Homo sapiens: one gene and its partners. The protein of the gene in region 2 purifies or fractionates together with the protein of the main gene of each other region. This does not show direct contact. Each region holds a gene or a part of one and is shown on either strand. Other genes may lie near its edges.

Evidence for each region. The genes of interacting proteins can lie anywhere in the genome.
Region 1: the proteins of LSMEM2 (region 2) and ALG5 purify together in Homo sapiens (affinity purification with mass spectrometry; one large-scale study listed by BioGRID and IntAct). This does not show direct contact.
Region 3: the proteins of LSMEM2 (region 2) and LSR purify together in Homo sapiens (co-immunoprecipitation; 2 studies listed by BioGRID and IntAct, with this or other methods). This does not show direct contact.
Region 4: the proteins of LSMEM2 (region 2) and PLBD1 purify together in Homo sapiens (co-immunoprecipitation; one large-scale study listed by IntAct). This does not show direct contact.

The regions. Positions count from the first base shown.
Region 1 is NC_000013.11:36,964,129-36,969,148, reverse strand, and holds part of ALG5 (dolichyl-phosphate beta-glucosyltransferase), read left to right. Parts: intron 1-1,341; exon of another isoform or gene 1,342-1,477; intron 1,478-3,422; coding exon 3,423-3,574; intron 3,575-5,020. UniProt on the Homo sapiens protein: Dolichyl-phosphate beta-glucosyltransferase that operates in the biosynthetic pathway of dolichol-linked oligosaccharides, the glycan precursors employed in protein asparagine (N)-glycosylation.
Region 2 is NC_000003.12:50,281,579-50,286,362, reverse strand, and holds part of LSMEM2 (leucine-rich single-pass membrane protein 2), read right to left. Parts: intron 1-4,784.
Region 3 is NC_000019.10:35,261,694-35,266,713, forward strand, and holds part of LSR (lipolysis-stimulated lipoprotein receptor isoform 2 precursor), read left to right. Parts: intron 1-231; coding exon 232-288; intron 289-852; coding exon 853-999; intron 1,000-4,665; coding exon 4,666-4,839; intron 4,840-4,985; coding exon 4,986-5,020. UniProt on the Homo sapiens protein: Probable role in the clearance of triglyceride-rich lipoprotein from blood. Binds chylomicrons, LDL and VLDL in presence of free fatty acids and allows their subsequent uptake in the cells.
Region 4 is NC_000012.12:14,508,172-14,513,191, reverse strand, and holds part of PLBD1 (phospholipase B-like 1 precursor), read left to right. Parts: intron 1-1,480; coding exon 1,481-1,681; intron 1,682-1,791; coding exon 1,792-1,932; intron 1,933-5,020. UniProt on the Homo sapiens protein: In view of the small size of the putative binding pocket, it has been proposed that it may act as an amidase or a peptidase.

The DNA.
Region 1 (5,020 bases), on a different chromosome or scaffold from region 2:
AATCTTTTACCTAGTACTGCTCTTAGCCAGGTATCAAGGGATCAATCGCAGGAACCACATATTTATAATTCATCTTGTCTCCATCCATCCATTCTTTCAGCTCTAAAACCAAGTGTTTGGTTTAGTGTTCTTGATTCCCACAGAATTGGCTGCCATTCTATAGAAAGAAGGGATAACCTTTGATACTCACTAGAGATCATTGGTTGTCCGCTGCAGATGCTATGACAACTACTGCTCAGTAGGCTTGTTCAAGTCCAGCTTATTCTTATAGAATCATAGCTGTCTCACAAAAGGTTGTCTCCAAGAAGGCACAAGACATGCATCCGCCTCATGTCTAGAAAACTGCAGCATGGCTTTCCATTTCCCTTCGTGTGCTGTCAGTAATAAACCCCTGCATGGTGATCAATCTGTGGACAATGAGAAAATTATAAAAGAACTAATCAAGATAGCAAATGACAACTTCGGTAGCTTATTGCCTAATGTTCAGAAACATCTTTCCTTGATATTTTTCTACATTTCTCAATTATTCTACCACCTCTTTTACTGCTCCCTTGGAAGACAAACATGACACTGCCCTGATAGAGTCTTGTATCATCCTTAAAAGTGCTTACATTCCCATGTGTTCTGTATAACGGTAATGTTTATATATGGTCTGGCTATTCTTGAATTTATCATTTTAAAAGGATTCAAAAATAGAATCCATTAGTGGTTACTTAATGTTTTTAGTTTTTGTTTAAAGAGTCTTTGCTTAAGTCCTGGGACTTCTTTGAACTTCTTATTTTAAGTTAATGAAATTAGAAGTCACCTTTAAATTTCACCTGAATTAATTTCTTGTTTACATTTTATAAACATTGAAGATACTAGCGTTAACACTGAAACAGTGAAAATTGTTTTCCTTAATGTTTTAAATGGCCATTTCAGAAGATCATATAAGCCTTCTCTCTTTTAGTAGCTTCACTTAACTAAATAAGTCTATCCTATATTTTAGGTATCTTCTAAATTTTAAGATATTTTGCAAAGTTCTAAAAACAAAAACAAGATTATCTTGTTTGTGACTAACCTTGTTAAGCTTTTAAATATGTTAGAAATCAAATAACTTAAGGTCTTCATGTGAACTCTACATTTTTCTGCTTTTTAAAAAATAGCCATTATCCTAAAGCAAACAAAAATCCTGTTATTAACATCCAAGCCAGAGCAGTCATGAATAGTTTTATTTGCGAACAAATAAGCTCACTCAAATCACATTAAAAATCACTCAAGGAGAATAATTTATAGGTATTGTTTTTCTACCTTTAATTTTTATTTTTCTATCTTTCAATTTCTATTTGTTCCTTTCCTAAGCATAAGTGCTCTTTTGGAGGTTTAATCAGTCAACCAGTATTTATTGGAAGTATTTTGTATGGAAGGCACTGAGCAAGCTGTTGTGAGATTCCTAAAGTATTTTAAGATGAGGTTTCTGCCCTATCTACTTAGAGAGGTAAGACATATTTACATCAACCCATAACTAATGATTCTAGATGATAAATGAGAAGTGCTAGATCATTTTTAAAAGTTTGTTTTACATACCATATAGATAAGTATTTTATTCTTCCTTTCCTTCCTGCCCTATTTAATACATAAGTAAAATTGTGGTCAGGAGAGTAAAGTAAGCTTTCAAGCTTTCTTCCTGTATGAAGAACATTATTGAGTTCCTGTTATTTTCTGTGCCAAACACTTCGCTATATTCTTTAAAATAATCTCATTTAATCCTTATAATAACTTTGTGAGGTAGGCATTATTCTCATTTTATCAGGAAATGGACTTAGAGGGCTGAAGTAACTTGTTGAAGGTCACCCTGCTAATTAGTAACGGAGCCAGGATTCCAATATAGGCCTCCTAGTTTGGTGCTTTTTCTTTTCTTTTCTTTTTTTCTTTTTTTTTTTTTTTGAGTTGGAGTCTCACTCTGTCACCCAGGCTGGGGTACAGTGGCGCCATCTCGGCTCATTGCAACCTGTGCCTCCCAAGTTCAAGCGATTCTTCTGCCTCAGCCTCCTAAGTAGCTGGGACTACAGGCGTGTGCCACCATGCCTGGCTAATTTTTGTATTTTTAGTAGAGATGGGGTTTCGCCATGTTGGGCAGGCTGGTCTTGAACCCCTGACCTCAAGCAATCCACCTGCCTCGGCCTCCCAGAGTGCTGGGATTACAGGTGTGAGCCACCGCACCTCGCCTGATTTGGTGCTTTTTCTTTGTTACTCTGTTCCACTGTGGTTCTGTTTGGTGTTGATGGAAAAAGCCATGCAAAGGAAGAACGATACTAAAAATTATAATTTTGAAAAGCAAAAGCCAAAAGGAGGAAGGGACCTTTATCCCATAGTATGAGATATTAAATGTTCTAATAGACTCTTAATAGGTTGCTTATGTATGTAAGTAACGCATCATTACTTGAGTCTATTGCCTTAACTAAGGAACATTTTAAAAGATCGTGTCTTAAAGAAGCTGGGTATAGTGGCACACGCCTGTGATCCCAGCTGCTCTGTAGGTTGAGGCAGAAGGATCACTTGATCCCAGGAATTTGAGGCTGCAGTGAACCATGACCACACCACTGGACTCTAGCCTGGACAACAGAAGGCGTCTCTGTCTCTAAAAAAAATTTTGTTATTTTATTTTTTAGAAAGATCCTATCTTTTACTAAATCTTAAATGTGAAAGTCTGGAATCCAGTGATAATAATCTTATGTTCTTATGTTTTAAAATGTGCTATGTTTTATGAATAATGGAATATTCTGTTACTACTAATAAAATTAATCATCAGTAACAGTAGTGAAACTTCAGATGGGATTAAAACCTACTTAATCTTAATATCCAAAGTATTAAAGAACTCAATATTTTAAATGTATTTAATTAGATCTCTGGCATGCTTAGAAAGACCAGGTGTTTGTTTCAAACTCCTTTCTAGTCCATAACCTTCATGATACTCTGCTATACATCTTCTGTCAATATTCTCATTAGTTAAGTATCAACTGCAGGCTTATATCTGTGCTTTGTTTTGTCAATACATCCTGGAAACTGACAGCTTTTTTGAAACTGAAATACATGTGGGGCAAAGCAGCATAAAATATGTAAGTAAACAAGACGTTCTCCTTGCTCACAGCAGCAGCCCCAAACCTGTTTCTCCTGGTAGGCTAAAGCCCTGGCCGCTTGTCTGACTCAACCTCCAGGAAATGAGTAACTGCTTCCTAGTGCCTCTACTCTGCTCCAAGCAGTAGGCATTCTTGCTGTTTCTTTAATATACTTTGTTGGTGAAGCTCATGGAACAGTGGTGTTCTTATGTAAGATCTACCAGTCAATTAAATATTAAAATACAGTTGTCTACAGCCAGGTGTTTTCAGTGTCTCCTTTACAGATGAATGGAAAAGTCATTTATATTTTGTCTTTGTTTTCAGCGTTCTTACTTCCGTACTCTTCTCATGTATGGGTTCCACTTTCTGGTGTGGTTCCTTTGTGTCAAAGGAATCAGGGACACACAGTGTGGGTTCAAATTATTTACTCGAGAAGCAGCTTCACGGACGTTTTCATCTCTACACGTTGAACGATGGTAGGTTTCTGACTGGAATGTATCCAGTCTGTCTTATGACCCAGCCATCTTCTAGGTAATGAGAAACAGCCCTGTATATTTATAATGAACATGTAGATTTAAACAAAATTGACAATAATGTATGTAAACTTGATCTTGCCTTTATACTTTTCCTGAGTTGGATCTTATTTTGAAAATACACAAACCCAACAATATGGTATAAAGTTATGTGTGTTCACCTTAATTGTAGACAGTAGAAATTGAGTGGCCTGAAAACATTTTTTTTCCTTTGAAGAAAAAAGAAAAAGCTCAGAAACATCAAAACAGAATAGGGCACCCATTTTCTCTTTTCTTCCTTCTACGGAAGATAAGGTGTCTTTCCTAAGACCGATCTTTTGACCTCTACATCTCCTTCCACCTTGTCAAAACCTAATCCTGTCCATGTATTTCATCTCTTGTGTATTCAGCCTTTTCCCTTCCATCACATCTTTCCCAGAACCCTTTCCATTGACCCTGCTGTGCCCTTCCAGCTCTAGCCCTGTCTCCTTCACAAGCAACCTTCTCTTGAAAAAGTGTTTTATATTCACTGGCTTTGTTTTCTTGCTTCCCACTCACTCCTCACCCCACCTTCTTCATATGGATTTTCTTCCATGCCTCATCATTTTTTTTTTTTTTTGAGTTTCGCTCTTGTTGCCCAGGATGGAGTACAATGGCAGGATTTCAGCTCACTGCAACCTCCGCCTCCCGCGTTCAAGTGATTCTCCTGCCTCAGCCTCCCAAGTAGCTGGGATTACAGGTGGGCGCTACCACACCCAGCTAGTTTTTGTATTTTTAGTAGAGATGAGGTTTCACCATGTTGGCCAGGCTGGTCTTGAACTCCTGACCTCAGGTGATCCACCCAAAGTGCTGCGATTACAGACGTGAGCCACTGCACCCAGTCTACTTCATCTTAACATCTAGCCACCTCTATGTCATTGAAGCCAGTGGTCATGTTAAATGACCACTTGTCACACTTAACCCATCAGCAGCATTTGATACTCCTGAGCTCTCTTTTGAAATATACTGGAGATACAGGTGGCTAGCACTGTTGTACAGAAGCTGAAACCCTGACATCAGCCCTGACATTCTCCACATGCATATATCCAATCCATGACAGGGCCTGTTGATTTTAGCTTTTGTGTTCCTCCATTTCTCTCCATCTCTACCACCGCCATCCAGAACACCATCCTTCTCCATACTACCATGCTGTAGCCCACAAGGTCTTTGCAAACTTAAGTGTGATCAATCATATGCACCTCTTCTGCTTATATTCCTTCATGGGCTTCCCATGGTCTTTAGTCTGGCCCCACCTGTGTCTCCACATGCGGACTCTTTTCTTTTCTAACCACGCCCCTTCTCACCTTCTCCTTCAGATCTTCCTTAGGGTAGCCTGCCCTCACTCTCTAAAGATAATATAATTAGCTCGGG
Region 2 (4,784 bases):
TTGGTTCCAAATCCCCTAAAACTGACTCAGGAATTACCCTTGATTTGGATCCAGGATGATCCCAGACCCTTACAGGCTTATTCTGTATACAGGAGCAACAGGTACATTTGATTTGTTTCCTTCCAAGCACCCCAGGGACTCACTCAGGCATTCCTCTGCCTGCTTATTTCTAGCAGTTTATCAGCCTTGAATGCTAAACCTGCAGCAAATGGAATTCAGTCCTGCCTCTTTTGTCAGTTCTCCCTGCAGACCCAATGCCTGGCATCTTCTGGTCAGAAAGCCCTATTGTAGCCACTCTGGTGCCTTTCCCTCCTGGCCTTGGTTCTGTGTTTGTTAACATACTCAGTGTGACTCTGCTGTACATGTGTGAACCCTGCTGTTTTCATTCAACATTTACTGTTGGGGAGACCCTTCTTTGTTATACTGTTGCACATGCCTCTGAGGTCTCTCCCTTCACACATCTCCCTGAGGCTGCCTGGGCATCTAGGTTGTTTGCAGTCCCCGCCCCCCTTTTTTTTTTGAGACGGAGTTTCGCTCTTGTTGCCCAGGCTGGAGCGCAATGGCGCGATCTTGGCTCACCGCTGCAGTTCCCTTTTGAAATTAACCCCCAGGACATCCACCGTTGAATATGAAGGTTTTTTCCCAATTTCCTGATAGTTTAATTCCCAGAAGTGGAATTACTGGATCCAAGAGCAGGGATTTTTGTTTGTTTGTTTGTTTTTTGAGATGGAGTCTCCCTGTATTGCCCAGGCTGGAGTGCTATGTCGTGATCTCGCCTCACTGCACCTTCCACCTCCTGGGTTCAAGCGATTCTCCTGCATCAGCCTCCTGAGTAGCTGGGATTACAGGCGTGTGCCACCACGCCCAGCTAATTTTTGTATTTTTGGTAGAGATGAGGATTCACCATGTTGGCCAGGCTGGTCTGGAACTCCTGACCTCAAGTGATCTGCCCGCCTCGGCCTTCCAAAGTCCTGGCATTTACAGGCATGAGCCACTGCATTTGGTCGTTTTTTGTTTTGGTTTGGTTTTTTTAAGATGGAGTCTCCCTCTGTCGCCCAGGCTGGAGTGCAATGGCAAGATCTCGGCTCACTGCAACCTCTGCCTCCCGGGTTCAATCAGTTCTCTGCCTCAGCCTCCTGAGTAGCTGGGATTACAGGCGCCTTCCACCACACCCAGCTACTTTTTATATTTTTAGTGGAGATGGGGTTTCACCATCTTGGCCAGGCTAGTCTTGAACCCCTGACCTTGTGATCCACCCACCTCGGCCTCCCAAAGTGCTGGGATTTACAGGCGTGAGCCACCGTGCCCGGCCTGTTTTTTTGTTTTTGAGACAGAGTCTTGCTCTGTTGCCCAGGCTGGAGTGCAGTGGCGCAATCTTGGCTCATTGCAACCTCCACCTCCTGGGTTCAAGTGATTCTCCTGTTTCAGCCTCCCAAGTAGCTGGGATTACAGATGTGTGCCACCACGCCCTGCTAATTTTTGTATTTTCAGTAGAAACCAGGTTTCACCATGCTGGCTAGGCTGGTCTCAAACTCCTGACCTCAAGTGATCCGCCCGCCTCAGACTCCCAAAGTGCTGGGATTACAGGCGTGAGCCATCGCGCCTGGCCTGAGATTTTTGTTTTGTTTTTGAGACAGATTCTTACTCTTTCACCCAGGCTGGAGTTCAGTGGAGTGATCACAGTTCACCGCAGCCTCCACCTCCTGGGCTCAGGTGATCCTCCTGCATCAGCCTTCCCAGTAGCTGGGACTACAGGCATGCACTACCATGCCCAGTTAATTTTTTTTGTATTTTTTGTAGAGACAGGGTTTTACTATGTTGCCCAGGCTGGTCTCGAGCTCCTGGTCTCAAGAGATCCATCCTGCTTGGCCTCTCAAAATGCTGGGATTACAGGTGTGAGCCACCATGCCCGGCCTGATTTTTTTTAAAGCTATTACCAAACTGTCCTCCAGAAGCACTGTCCACAGCTCCCCCGCAGGGTATAATATTGCCACCATTAGGCATCCCCATAGGAAAAAAATTATATTTACATGCACACGTGCACACATATATTTGCTAACTTGAGAGATGAGAAATGGTCTTTCTTATTTTATTGGGTTTCTTAGCCTAGGGAGTGTGACTAATACGTGTGTGGCGCTTTTTTTTTTTTTTTTTTTTTTGAGACAGTCTTGCTGTGTTGCCCAGGCTGGAGTGCAGTGGTGCGATCTCAGCTCACTGCAACCTCCACCTCCCAGGTTCAAGCAATTCTCGTGCTTCAGCCTCCCAAGTAGCTGGGACTACAGGCACCTGCCACCATGCCTGGCTAATTTTTGTATTTTTAGTAGAGACCAGGTTTTGCCATGTTGGCCAGGCTGGTCTCAAACTCCTGACCTCAAGTGATCCACCCGCCTTGGCCTCCCAAAGTGCTGGGATTATAGGCGCAAGCCACCATGCCCAGCTGTGTGTGGCTTCTTAATTATCAATTTGAAGCCTCTGCCCATTTAGTCACTTGGGTCTGTGTACTTTTCTTTTGATTTTAATTATGTACTTTCACACTCATTGAAGTTTTTGCTTTTTGTTTGTTTGTTTGAGACAGAGTCTCTGTTGCCCTGGCTGGAGTGCAGTGGCACGATCTGGGCTCACTGCAACCTCCGCCTCCCGGGTTCAAGGGTTTCTCCTACCTCACCCTCCTTAGTAGCTAGCACTACAGGTGTGCACCACCACACCCTGCAAATTTTTTTTTTTTTTTTTTTTTTTGAGATGGAGTCTCGCTCTGCCGCCCAGGCTGGAGTGCAGTGGCACGATCTCGGCTCACTGCAAGCTCCGCCTCCCAGGTTCGTGCCATTCTCCTGCCTCAGCCTCCCAAGTAGCTGGGACTACAGGCGTCCGCTGCCATGCCCGGCTAATTTTTTGTATTTTTAGTAGAGATGGGGTTTCACCATGTTAGCCAGGATAGTCTCGATCTCCTAACCTTGTGATCCGTCTGCCTCAGCCTCCCAAAGTTCTGGGATTACAGGTGTGAACCACCGCGCCCGGCCAATTTTTGTATTTTTTGATAAAGATGGGGTTTCACCTTCTTGGCCAGGCTGGTCTTGAACTCCTGACCTCAGGTAATCCACCCGCCTCAGCCTCCCAAAGTGCTGGGATTATAGGCGTGAGCCATCGCACCCAGCCGGTGTTTCGTTTGTTTGTTTGTTTTTGAGACAGAATCTCCCTCTCTTGCCATGCTGGAGTGCAGTGGCGCAATCTCAGCTCACTGCAACCTCCGCCTCCCAGGTTCAACCGATTCTCCTGCCTTAGCCTCCCGAGTGGCTGGAACTACAGGCACGTGCCACCACGCCTGGCTAATTTTTGTATTTTTAGTAGAGACGGGGTTTCACCATGTTGGCCAGGATGGTCTCGATCTCTTGACCTCGTGATCTGCTCACCTCAGCCTCCCAAAGTGCTGGGATTACAGGCATGAGCCACCATGCCTGGCCTTTTGTTTGTCTGTTTTTTTTGAGACAGAGTCTTACTGTGTCACCCAGACTGGAGTACAGTGGCATGATCTCAGCTCACTGCAACTTCTGCCTCCTGGGTTCAAGTGATTTTCCTGCCTCGTCTCCCCAGTAGCTGGGATTACAGGCACGTGCCACCATGCCCAGCTAATTTTTGCATTTTTAGTACAGCTGGGGTTTCACCATTTTGGCCACGCTGGTCTTGAACTCCTGACCTCAAGTCATCTGCCCATCTTGTCCTCCCAAAGTGCTGGGTTTACAGGCATGAGCCACCGTACCTGGCCAATATTTAATTATATTTTCTTCTAGTTGTTCTTTAACTTGATGTCTAAAAATCCTGGTCCAGATGCCAAGAGCTCCAGATACCCACCTGGAAGCTGATAACAGTAGGGAAGAGCATTGAGGGGACACCTCCAGATAGGAGCAAGGGTGGCCTTGCACTCTGGGACTGTCATTCTCAGGACAGTAACTCAACCTCCATGATTTACTTGAAACTGCCTCTTGACGTGCTCAAAAGCAAGTACAACAAAAACAAGCAAGTGCTGCCAGTCATTATGTCTGGGTGGTGGGTTGAAGGTCATATTAAATTCTCTCTTTGGGCCGGGCACTGTGGCTCATGCCTGTAATCCCAGCACTTTGGGAGGCCAAGGCAGGAGGATCATTTGAGTCTAAGAGTTTGAAACCAGCCAGGGCAACGTAGGGAGACCCCATCTCTACAAAAAAATCAAAGATTAGGGCCGGGCATGGTGGCTCACACCTGTAATCCCAGCACTTTGGGAGGCTGAGGTGGGCGGATCACGAGGTCAGGAGTTCAAGATCAGCCTGGTCAACATGGTGAAACCCCATCTGTACTAAAAATACAAAAAATTAGCCGGGCATGGTGATGGGCGCCTGTAGTCCCAGCTACTCAGGAGGCTGAAGGCAGGAGAATAGCTTGAACCCAGGAGGCGGAGCTTGCAGTGATCCAAGCTCAAGCCACTGCACTCCAGCCTGGGCGACAGAGCTAGACCTCGTCTCAAAAAACAAAAAAGTAATTAAAGATTAGTTTGGTGTGGTGGCATGCTTCTGTGGTCCCAGCTTCTCAGGAGGCTGAGGTGGGAGGGTTGCTTGAGTCCAGGAAGTCAAGGCTGCAGTGAGCTGTGATCATGCCATTGTACTCCAGCCTGGGCAACAGAGTGAGACCCTATCTCCAAAAAAAAAAAAAAAAAAAAAAAAATTCCCTGCTGCCGGGCGCAGTGGCTCACACCTATAATCCCAGCACTTTGGGAGGCCAAGGCAAGTGGATCACAAGGTCAGGAGTTTGAGACC
Region 3 (5,020 bases), on a different chromosome or scaffold from region 2:
GGAGCCCTCGTGGCATAACACAGGTGGATTATGCAATGGGAGTTTCTTACCTATAAGCACCCACATGTGGGCGGGTGGAGGGTAGGAGCCATGCACTAGGGCTTCAGCCCCCAGCCCCTTCCCGCTTCAGGGCACACCTTGCACTTGGCCAGCCTGGAGCTGGGCTTTCGGGGGTGGCACAGCCTGGGCTGGCTCTGGCCAGCATAATCTGTTTCTCTTTTGTCCCTCCAGGGAGGACCTCAGGGGTGGCTGAGCTCTTACCTGGTTTTCAGGCGGGGCCCATAGAAGGTACGGGGGGTGGATCCTGAGTTGGGCTTCTCGGGAGCTCCCATACATCACCTACTGCTTCTGACTCTAGTTAGTATCCCCTTCCCCACTAAACCCTGCTCACTGTGGACCCCTCACTAACCTGGCCTGACTGTGGCTCTGAGGCATCTAGTGGTCTGGCGCTGGGCCTAGGCTAGGCTGGGCTGAGGAGAGCCTGGGGTGCAGGCCAGGGCTCTGTGACTGGCACCTGCGGTGCTCTTGAGGGTGTGGCGTCTGGGCAGCTGGCTCTCTCTTTGGTCTGGGGGCTGCAGTCTGTCTCCCTCTGTGCAGGCTGCCTCGTTTTCTGCCTTGTGTTTTTTGCACCTGGGGGAGGGCCGTAACTGGGGAATGGCCGGGATGGTAGAATGGGGAGTGTGCTGTGCCCAGCCTCTGGCACAAAAAATCCAGCCAGGGCTGCAGGTTCCTTGGTGAGCTTTGCAAATCGTCCCCGACCTCAGTGCTGGCTCCGCACCATGTACCCCTGCTGTGCCGTTAGCCCTGTTCCCTCCCAGGCCTCCGGGCTCAGGGCCTGTTGTCTTTCTGCAGACTGGCTCTTCGTGGTTGTGGTATGCCTGGCTGCCTTCCTCATCTTCCTCCTCCTGGGCATCTGCTGGTGCCAGTGCTGCCCGCACACTTGCTGCTGCTACGTCAGGTGCCCCTGCTGCCCAGACAAGTGCTGCTGCCCCGAGGCCCGTAAGTGTCCCGCTCATGGCCACCCTGGTTTGGGCAACATCCTGCATCCAAGGGAAGGAGGTGGCCATCCACCTGCCCCCAGGACAGTGGCGTTGGTCTGGAGGGTGTGAATTTAGCCAGTGGGGAGAAAGTAGGCTGAGGAGGGTCTGCTGTTTAGATTGTCGTTTACTTCCTCCAACTTTTAGTTTATTTTTATTTATGTTGTTCTTTTCTTTTGTAAGTATAATCCATACACATGGTAAAAATGTCCAACAGTACAAGATACTAGTCACATGGAAGTAAAGCCCTCTAAAAAAACCAAATCTTGGCTAGGCGCAGTGATTACGCCTGTAATCCCAGCACTTTGGGAGGCCAAGACGAGTGGATCACTTGAGGTCAGGAGTTCCAGATCAGCCTGGCCAACATGGTAAAACCCAGTTCTCTACTAAAAATACAAAAATTAGCTGGGCATGGTGGTGATCGCCTGTAATCCCAGCTACTCAGGAGACTGAGGCATGAGAATCGCTTAAACCCAAGAAGTGGAGGTTGCAGTGAGCTGAGATCACGCCACTGCACTCCAGCCTGGGCGACAGAGTGAGACTCTGTCTCAAAAAAAAAAGAAAAAAAAATGTTAAGTGAAAAAGTTAAGAAACCAAACAAGGTTTACAACACTACATGATTTAAGCAAAAAAAATTTTTTTTGTTTTAGAGAAAGGGTCTCATTCTGTCATCCAGGCAGTGCAGTGCGATCATAGCTCTCTGCAGCCTCAAACTCCCGGGTTCAAGCAGTCCTCCCGCCTCAGCCTCTGGAGCAGCTGGGACTGTAGGCACACACCACCATGCCCAGCTAATTTTTTGATTTTTGTTTTTTGTAGAGACGGGGTCTCAGTATGTTGCCCAGCCTGATCTCAAACTCCTGGCCTCAGGTGATCCTCCCAAGTCAGCCTCCCCAAAGTGCTGGGATTACAGGCATGTGCCACCATGCTGGCCAATTTTTAAAAATTTTCTGTAGAGACAGGGTCTTGCTATGTTGCCCAGGCTGGTCTTGAACTCTTGACCTCAAGTGATCCTGCCTCAGGCTCCCAAAGTGATGGGATTACAGGCATGAACTACCACACCTGGCCTTAAACTTAAGCAAATTTTTTTTTTTTTTTGGAGACAGTTTCACTCTGTCGCCCAGGCTGGAGTAAAGTGGCGTGATCTCTGCTCACTGCAACCTCCGCCCCCCGGGTTTAAGCTATTCTCCTGCCTCAGCCTCCCGAGTAGCTGGGATATAGGCGCCTGCCACCACGCCTGACTAATTTTTGTATTTTTAGTAGAGACGGGGTTTTGCCATGTTGGCCAGGCTGGTCTCGAACTCCTGACCTCAGGCAGTCCGCTCCCCCGCACCCCTACCTTGGCCTCCCAAAGTGTTAGGACTACAGGTGTGAGCCACCATGCCTGGCCAAATTTAAGCAAATGTTTGAAAACACATACCCACAGGAATGCTGCACATTTTACCCAGCTACTATGTCTAGGGTCGTATCTAGCACACCAGCATGGCTACTGTGGAGAGCTGGGACTGGATGTGAGATGAGAGCTAAAGGGGAAGTAAGCAAACCAAGCAGGGGAAGGTAAGAGAAGACAGAAGACAGAGAGAGAGGGACCTAACTCTATGAGAGGAGTCAGACATGTGCAATTGAAAAAGACTTGCTCCTGTCTCTCTTCTGTGAATGTTTGTGAATATCCCAACGGGACACTTTCACAGAGGAGCTGATTGACGTGGTCACAGCCATCAGCCTTGGGACACCAGACCACAGTGTGTACACTAAGTGGCACTGATGGACACTTCAGCATCCCTCTAGCTGCTGTCCCGTTTCCCCTCCTCGGGGACCACAGCTGTTGCCAGTCCTTGGTTTCCTTCAGGAGGGTGTCTGGGTAGACCAGCCTGTGTGCACACAGTCCAAGATACATGAACAGTGAAGTGCCAGGCAATCCTTGCAAGCATGGGCAGGTGGAGAGCTGAGGCCTGCTTGACACCTTCCTGCTCAGAAGCCCAGTGAGCAGTTTCCCTCCCTAGGGCTCAGTGTCATCCCCTATAAAATGGGGCTTATGGCAGAGCTCACCACACTGGGTGCATCTGGGGATTTGGCGAGCTCATGTGCACACCATTGAGCATGGGGCCCAACCTATATAAAATATTCTACGTCTGTCAGCTGCTGGGCACTGCCACTATCAGCCTCAGTAGTGACTGAGGGACAGGGCACCAGTCAGAGCCCTGGTGCACACAGAGTGACCCCAGAGAAGCAGCCTTCCCTCTCTGAGTCCTGTTTCCTTCTGTTAGGTCCTGACTTCATGGGTTGTTGTTAGCATTAAGGAAGTCGCTGGCTAATTTTATAGTCATTGAAGTCAGTGGTGTGCAACCTGGTTCCTCAAAGGATCACTTCCCTGAAAAAATTCCACTGCTCCCTGGAGGCTTATGCAGGCCATCCCATCCCCTCCCTCTTGTTGTGTTCAGCTGACAGCTTTTTGCTCAGTGAGTAAGTGTTAGGTCCATTTCACAGATGGGCTGCAACCAAGTTTGCAGTGAACCCACTAAGACCAGAGCTAGGGCCAGGACTAAATGCTGGTCCCAATGCCACATTCCCCTGTCCCCACACCACATTTCCTCCATCCGGAGACCCTGTTACCCCAACCCAGGGCCCCATTAACTCCCTGGCAGAGGCCCTGTTACATCTGCTGCTGCCACAGCCTCCGCCCACCCTTCAGGAGGCAGCAGGTCCCACTGCTGATGATAAAGTTGCAGGCTGCCTGAGCTAATGAAGGGGCTTCCTCTAGGCTGTGCACTTAGTCTTCTGCTTCCAAACCAAATCAGAGGTGAGGCACCCTCTCTGGGCCCATCTCTCTCCTCCATTTTCCTGTTGGGGTCCCAGGGAGGAAGCCACTTGCCTAGGGCCCAGGAATTTTGCAAGCCTCTTGCCCTAGGGAGGAAGGAAGGGAGGAGGATCTTACCTTGAACTGTCAAGCCTAGAGCCTGGTGGGGCAGGCAGAAATGGGTGCAGTCCATGAGTTAGAAACACTAGAGGAGACACTTTGCTGCTTGGCCGGGGCAGGCAAGTTAATTCCCGAGGCTCCTGCCACTGCATCTCAATCTGGAAGGTGACCAGGTGGGCAGGACCCACGTCTCCCAGATGACTCATTTTTTCTAGAACAGGGGCTTGGCTGCCAAAGAGGATACTTGATTTCGGCTTGTGGGGACAGTGGTGGACCCAGCATCTGGGCTTTATATAAAGGGCAGCTTTGTTGCCCTGTAAACACACAGACCATGGGTGGCCACTTCTTCCAGTAAGTTAGCTGGGGAGTTGGAAGTTTAGGTAAAACCTTTTGATTGACAAATGTTGGCGAATTACCATGCTGTTAAATGAAACATTGTTCTGCCACCCTGGGGCTGTGGGTGCCTGCGTGCACCCTCTGAAAAATCACACAGGAAGTGGGGTGGGGTCTCTGTGAAGCTGGTGTCCCCCAGCCTCAGGGATGCTGCAGAAATGGAATGAGGACCAACAGGGACTCAGATGTCCAAGGAAGCTCTACAGCGGAGAGGACGGCTTGGGAAGGAGGTCCAGGCCCAGGTCCCTCCGGAACCCAATGGGTATGGGGCAGCCTGGCTCCTGCCTCATCCCCCTTCTCCTGTTGATTGTGTCCTCACAGTGTATGCCGCCGGCAAAGCAGCCACCTCAGGTGTTCCCAGCATTTATGCCCCCAGCACCTATGCCCACCTGTCTCCCGCCAAGACCCCACCCCCACCAGCTATGATTCCCATGGGCCCTGCCTACAACGGGTACCCTGGAGGATACCCTGGAGACGTTGACAGGAGTAGCTCAGGTGAGGCCGGGGGAAGCAGGAACAGCTGGTGGGAGTGTGCTGGGCATCTGGACACTGAGGGGCAGGGGCTGGAAGGAAGAGTGTCTTGGGAGCCGAGGAGGGGCTCTGCTCCTGGTGCGCGGCCACTGACAGCCACTCTCCCCCAGCTGGTGGCCAAGGCTCCTATGTACCCCTGCTTCGG
Region 4 (5,020 bases), on a different chromosome or scaffold from region 2:
TGTCAGATATCAAAATATCCTTTCTTTTGTATAACATAAATATATATAATTTTTACTTGTCAGTTAAAAAATAACAAAAATATTAACTAAATGATAGTTCAGATAGTACTCAGATATGGCAAAAATGATAAAAGTGGTAAAAAATCATGGTAGAAATTTGAGACCATCTCAGTCCATTCTGACTACTATGACAAAACACCTCAGACTAGGTAATTTATAAGCTATAGAAATGTTATTGCTCACAGTTCTGGAGGCTGGGAAGCCCAAGATGAAGGGACTGGAAGACTCAGTGTCTAATGAGGGTCTGTTTCTCGTAGACAGTGCCTTCTCTCTGTGACCTCACATAGTGGAAGGGGCTAGCTAGCTCCCTCGGGACTGTTTTGTAAGGGCCTTAAAACCCTTCAGCAGGATGCACCGAAGGAACTTACCACTCTGGCCCCTTCTAACCCTACCACTGAGGTCCTTTTCTGTTTAACACTGACAGTTGTTCCATTACTGTTACTGATGACAGTATATCCTCTCTTTTTATTACAGCTGTGCCTGATATTCTATCCTTTCCATACTCATCCCAGTATAAACCACAAAATAGGTCTTCAGAAAAGACTGTGGCTTCACTGATTTTCCTGTGTTGCCTCCAACATTTATAAAAAAGCATTGACCAAGAGTGTCAATGCCCTAGTTTCAAAACCATCTTTACTTTTCTAAATGTAGATGTTTTTCCATTTATAAAAATTATGTAGACTTAGCCGGGTGTGGTGGCCCACACCTGTAATCCCAGCACTTTAGAGGCTAAGGTGGGTGAATCACTTGAGGTCAGGAGTTTGAGACCAGCCTGGCCAACACGGTGAAACCCGGTCTCTACTAAAAATACAAAAATTAGCCAGGTGTGGTGGTGCACACCTGTAACCCCAGCTACTCAGGAGGCTGAGGCACAAGAATTGCTTGAACCCAGGAGGCAAGGTTGCAGTGAGCTGAGATCATGCCACCACACTGCAGCCTGGGTGACAGAGTCAGACTGTGTGTCAAAAAAAAAAAAAAAGTAGACTTATACAAAATTTGAAAAATACAGGAAAGTAGAAAAGAAGAAAAAAAGGCATTTATATTCTTACTAATGAACCCTGCTAATCCCCTCCCTAATTAAAAATTCTCCTGCAAAATCCTAGCAAGTCGGGATCTACATCTGTTTATCATTCTGGAAGCTTGCAATGTTCTGGATTTAACATATTTTTGTTATTTCAAATCACAAAATAAATTTTCAATGGAGAATCCAGGGGTGGAGTTCTTTTGGCACCTCTATAAGGGGCAGTTGGGTGACTACCACAGAGGTGAGCCAAAGCTGGGGGAGGCTACTGCAGATCAAGGATAGTAATAACTGATACACTTTGCAAAATGCATTGTGTATGTAAAGCTCTTTGTCAATAATGATGGTTCACTGTTCCATGTATACATATGCTGATGTGTATATTTGTCTTTCCTGTAGGGTTTTTGGAGTCTCTGGATGATTTTTACATTCTTAGCAGTGGATTGATATTGCTGCAGACCACAAACAGTGTGTTTAATAAAACCCTGCTAAAGCAGGTAATACCCGAGACTCTCCTGTCCTGGCAAAGAGTCCGTGTGGCCAATATGATGGCAGATAGTGGCAAGAGGTGGGCAGACATCTTTTCAAAATACAACTCTGGTAAGTGACCCTGCAGAATAACTGTTAGGCACAGACATATATTTTGATTTAGGCTTGTTAACCAGTAAAGTCATACCCATGCCCCGTCTTCATGTTTCCTGATATTTCAGGCACCTATAACAATCAATACATGGTTCTGGACCTGAAGAAAGTAAAGCTGAACCACAGTCTTGACAAAGGCACTCTGTACATTGTGGAGCAAATTCCTACATATGTAGAATATTCTGAACAAACTGATGTTCTACGGAAAGGTACTTTCTTCATGTCGTAAGTCTTAAAACCTGATGAGTATGTGTGTGTTCATATATGGTAGGGGAATGCACATTGTGTGAATGTGTGGTGGGGGAGGGTATGGTGGGGAAGACAGGATGGGGATGCTATATTACACCAGAATGACCAGGTTTAGCACAACATGTAAACCTACATCTCAAACTCTTATAGGACAATGTGCAGATTGGGACGCAAATCAGGCATTCATGACTCTATGATTTCTCATAGTTCTAATGTTACCTTTTCTCCTGTGTTCCTGGTTAAAGCTTTAAGTTCAATTCAGCAAATATTTTTGGAGTGCCACTGTGGCCCAGGGACTAGAAAAGCAAGGATACAGAATCCCTGACCTGGAAGGACTCAGGAGTCTAGTAGGGAAGCAAAGCACTCAAAGCAGCTGCAGGAACTCAGGATGGGAAGAGCTGTCATCAGGTCTCATGTCCCTAGGCCAGTGGTGAACCTAAACAGAACGTGGCTGTTAGTGGGTGGAGTCAGAGAAGGCACTTCTGGTGGGCAAGAAGGAGTCCAGACATTTGAAGCCAGGAGGCTCACTGCCTTGATTCAAATCTCAGTTCCTTAAAATCTCAGGCAAATTAGTGAATCTCTCCAAGCCTCATTTTCCTCATCTATAAAACTGAATCGTGATATAGGTCCACAACCACGTATTTGTAATTTTAAAATTCCAAAATTGTAAAACCACAAATTATTATTTTGTTTCTCTTGTTTTGCTTTGATTTGGTAGCCTAGCTCACTTGGTAGCAAGAAAATGACCTGATCTGAACTCACTTGGCAGCAAAAACTACCAGAAAGAAACTTTTAGTGGTTTTTAATTTTAATTTTTATTTTTCTTCAGATGGAGTGTCGCTCTGTCACCCAGGCTGGAGTACGGTGGTGCGATCTCGGCTCCCTGCAACCTCTGCCTTTCGGGTTCAAGCGATTCTCCTGTCTCAGCCTCCTGAGTAGCTGGGACTACAGGCACGTGCCACCACACCTGGCTAATTTTTTGTGTGTTTTTAGTAGAGACGGGGTTTCACCAGTTGGCCAGGTTGAACTCCTGACCTCAGGTGATCTGTCTGCGTCGGCCTTCCAAATTGTGGTGCCCAGCCTGTTTTTTTAAATTGTCTTTATTTCCTCTTAGAGACACCATGTATACATTAGGCTACAGAAATATCAACATCTTTGATTATGAGGTGTTTCCCAAAGAGACTGTAATGTCATATAATCCATGCACTCCATGGTTGTTCTAAAGTCTGAAAAACCCTAAATTCTGAGACTCATCTGGCTCCCAAGAATTTCTGGATGTGGGAGTGTGGAACTCTACAATTTCACAGGATGGTCATGAAAATTAATTAAGATAAATAGATAGATTTATTGAGAGAAAATGTTAGCTTTAAAAATCCTACTGGACAGTTCAGACTTTATGTTTTAGAAATTGGGAGTTCCTGACAAGGGAGAATAGACTGGGTGGGAAGAAAAGAGACTAGTTAGGAGACTATTGCAATAGATCAACTGGCAGATGAATAGGGACAGAACGGAGATAAAGTGTGGACCCTAGGGATCAGGACCTGGTCCTCAGTTTTCCAGGTCCCCAAATTGACTTTGTAATGATGCCTAGAGTGAGCCTTGTCAGTGGAGAATGGGTCACACCAACTAAATGCACTAAGACTTATGCATAAAACAAAAGGTGGGAGTTTCATTGCCAAGCAGTTCATATGCTACCAAGCAGTGGACCTACCTTCTTCTTTGCTTGTTAGGAAAATCCATCCAAGAAGTCAAATCATTAGGTGGTTACTGTTTAGCATAGAGCAATTCAAAACAGAGAACCCAGCTCCTAAGAGCCTGAAAATAATAGCATGCCTCAAGAGAGAGAGATGCTTGCTAAAGTAGTCTTTTCTTCTTTGGACAGTTGCTGATAACAGAATGGTAGACTTGGTTCTCTGCAGTCCCATTCCTAGACCCCTTGAAACTCCCTAAGACTAAAAAGAGTTGATGATGATCTGTCTGTATTTTTTTTTCTTTGCCAGAGGAGAGAAGAACAGAGAGTTAAATTCAGAGTACCTACTGCATTCTAGACACTCTTCTGGGCCTTTTACTTATGTTCTCTTGTTTGATGTTTGTAACATACTACCCCATAAGTGTTATTGTTGCCATTTTACTGTGAGTAAAGAAAAGCTCAGAAAGAAACATGTTTTGCCCAAACAAATACATGATATCATATAGCCATTAAAAAGGCGGGGGCGTCGGGGTCGGGGGTGGGCACATCTCCTAACGTATTTAAGCAACTGTGGTATGGTGATAGAAGCCCTGGATGTTTTAGTTAGAAGGCCTGTATTCTGTCAAGTTTTGTGAGCCAAGGAAGACAATTGACCTCTCTGAAACTCTGTTTCTTCTGTTTAAAAAAGGGATGGTAATACTTATACATCATCAGGTTTTTGTGAGATTAAACAAGCTGCTCTATTTTCTTTATTTATTTTGAGACAGGGTCTCGCTTTGTCACCCAGGCTAGATTGCAGCTGCGTGATCTCGGCTCACTACAACCTTTGCCTCTCGGGTTCAAGCGGTTCTCGGGCCTCAGCCTCCCGAGTAGCTGGGACCACAGGTGTGCACCCCAATGCCTGGCTATTTTTTTATATTTTTAGTGGAGGCAGGGTCTTGCCATATTGCCCAGCCTGGTCTTGAACTTCAGAGCTCAAGCAATCCACCTGCCTCAGCCTCCCAAAGTGCTGGGATTACAGGCACAAGCCACTGCACCAGGCCAAGTTGCTCTGTTTTAAATCACGAAGCTTCATGAAATGTGAAGTATAAAGTAGACATTTTCGTTATTCATTTGAGCTGTTTTCACAAAGAGAAATATAATAATCTAATGTTTACCAAGTATTAGATACTATTGTAAGCACTCCATCTGAATGCATTTCATGCTCATGCTTATGAAGATGCTTAATGCTGAATAGTTAATGAAGATGAAGAAACTGAGGCACAAAGGGGATAAGCAATTTGTTCAAGGTCACATACCTAATAATGGCAGAACCAGGCTTCAAATCCAGGCAATCTAATTCCTGAGCCTATATAACC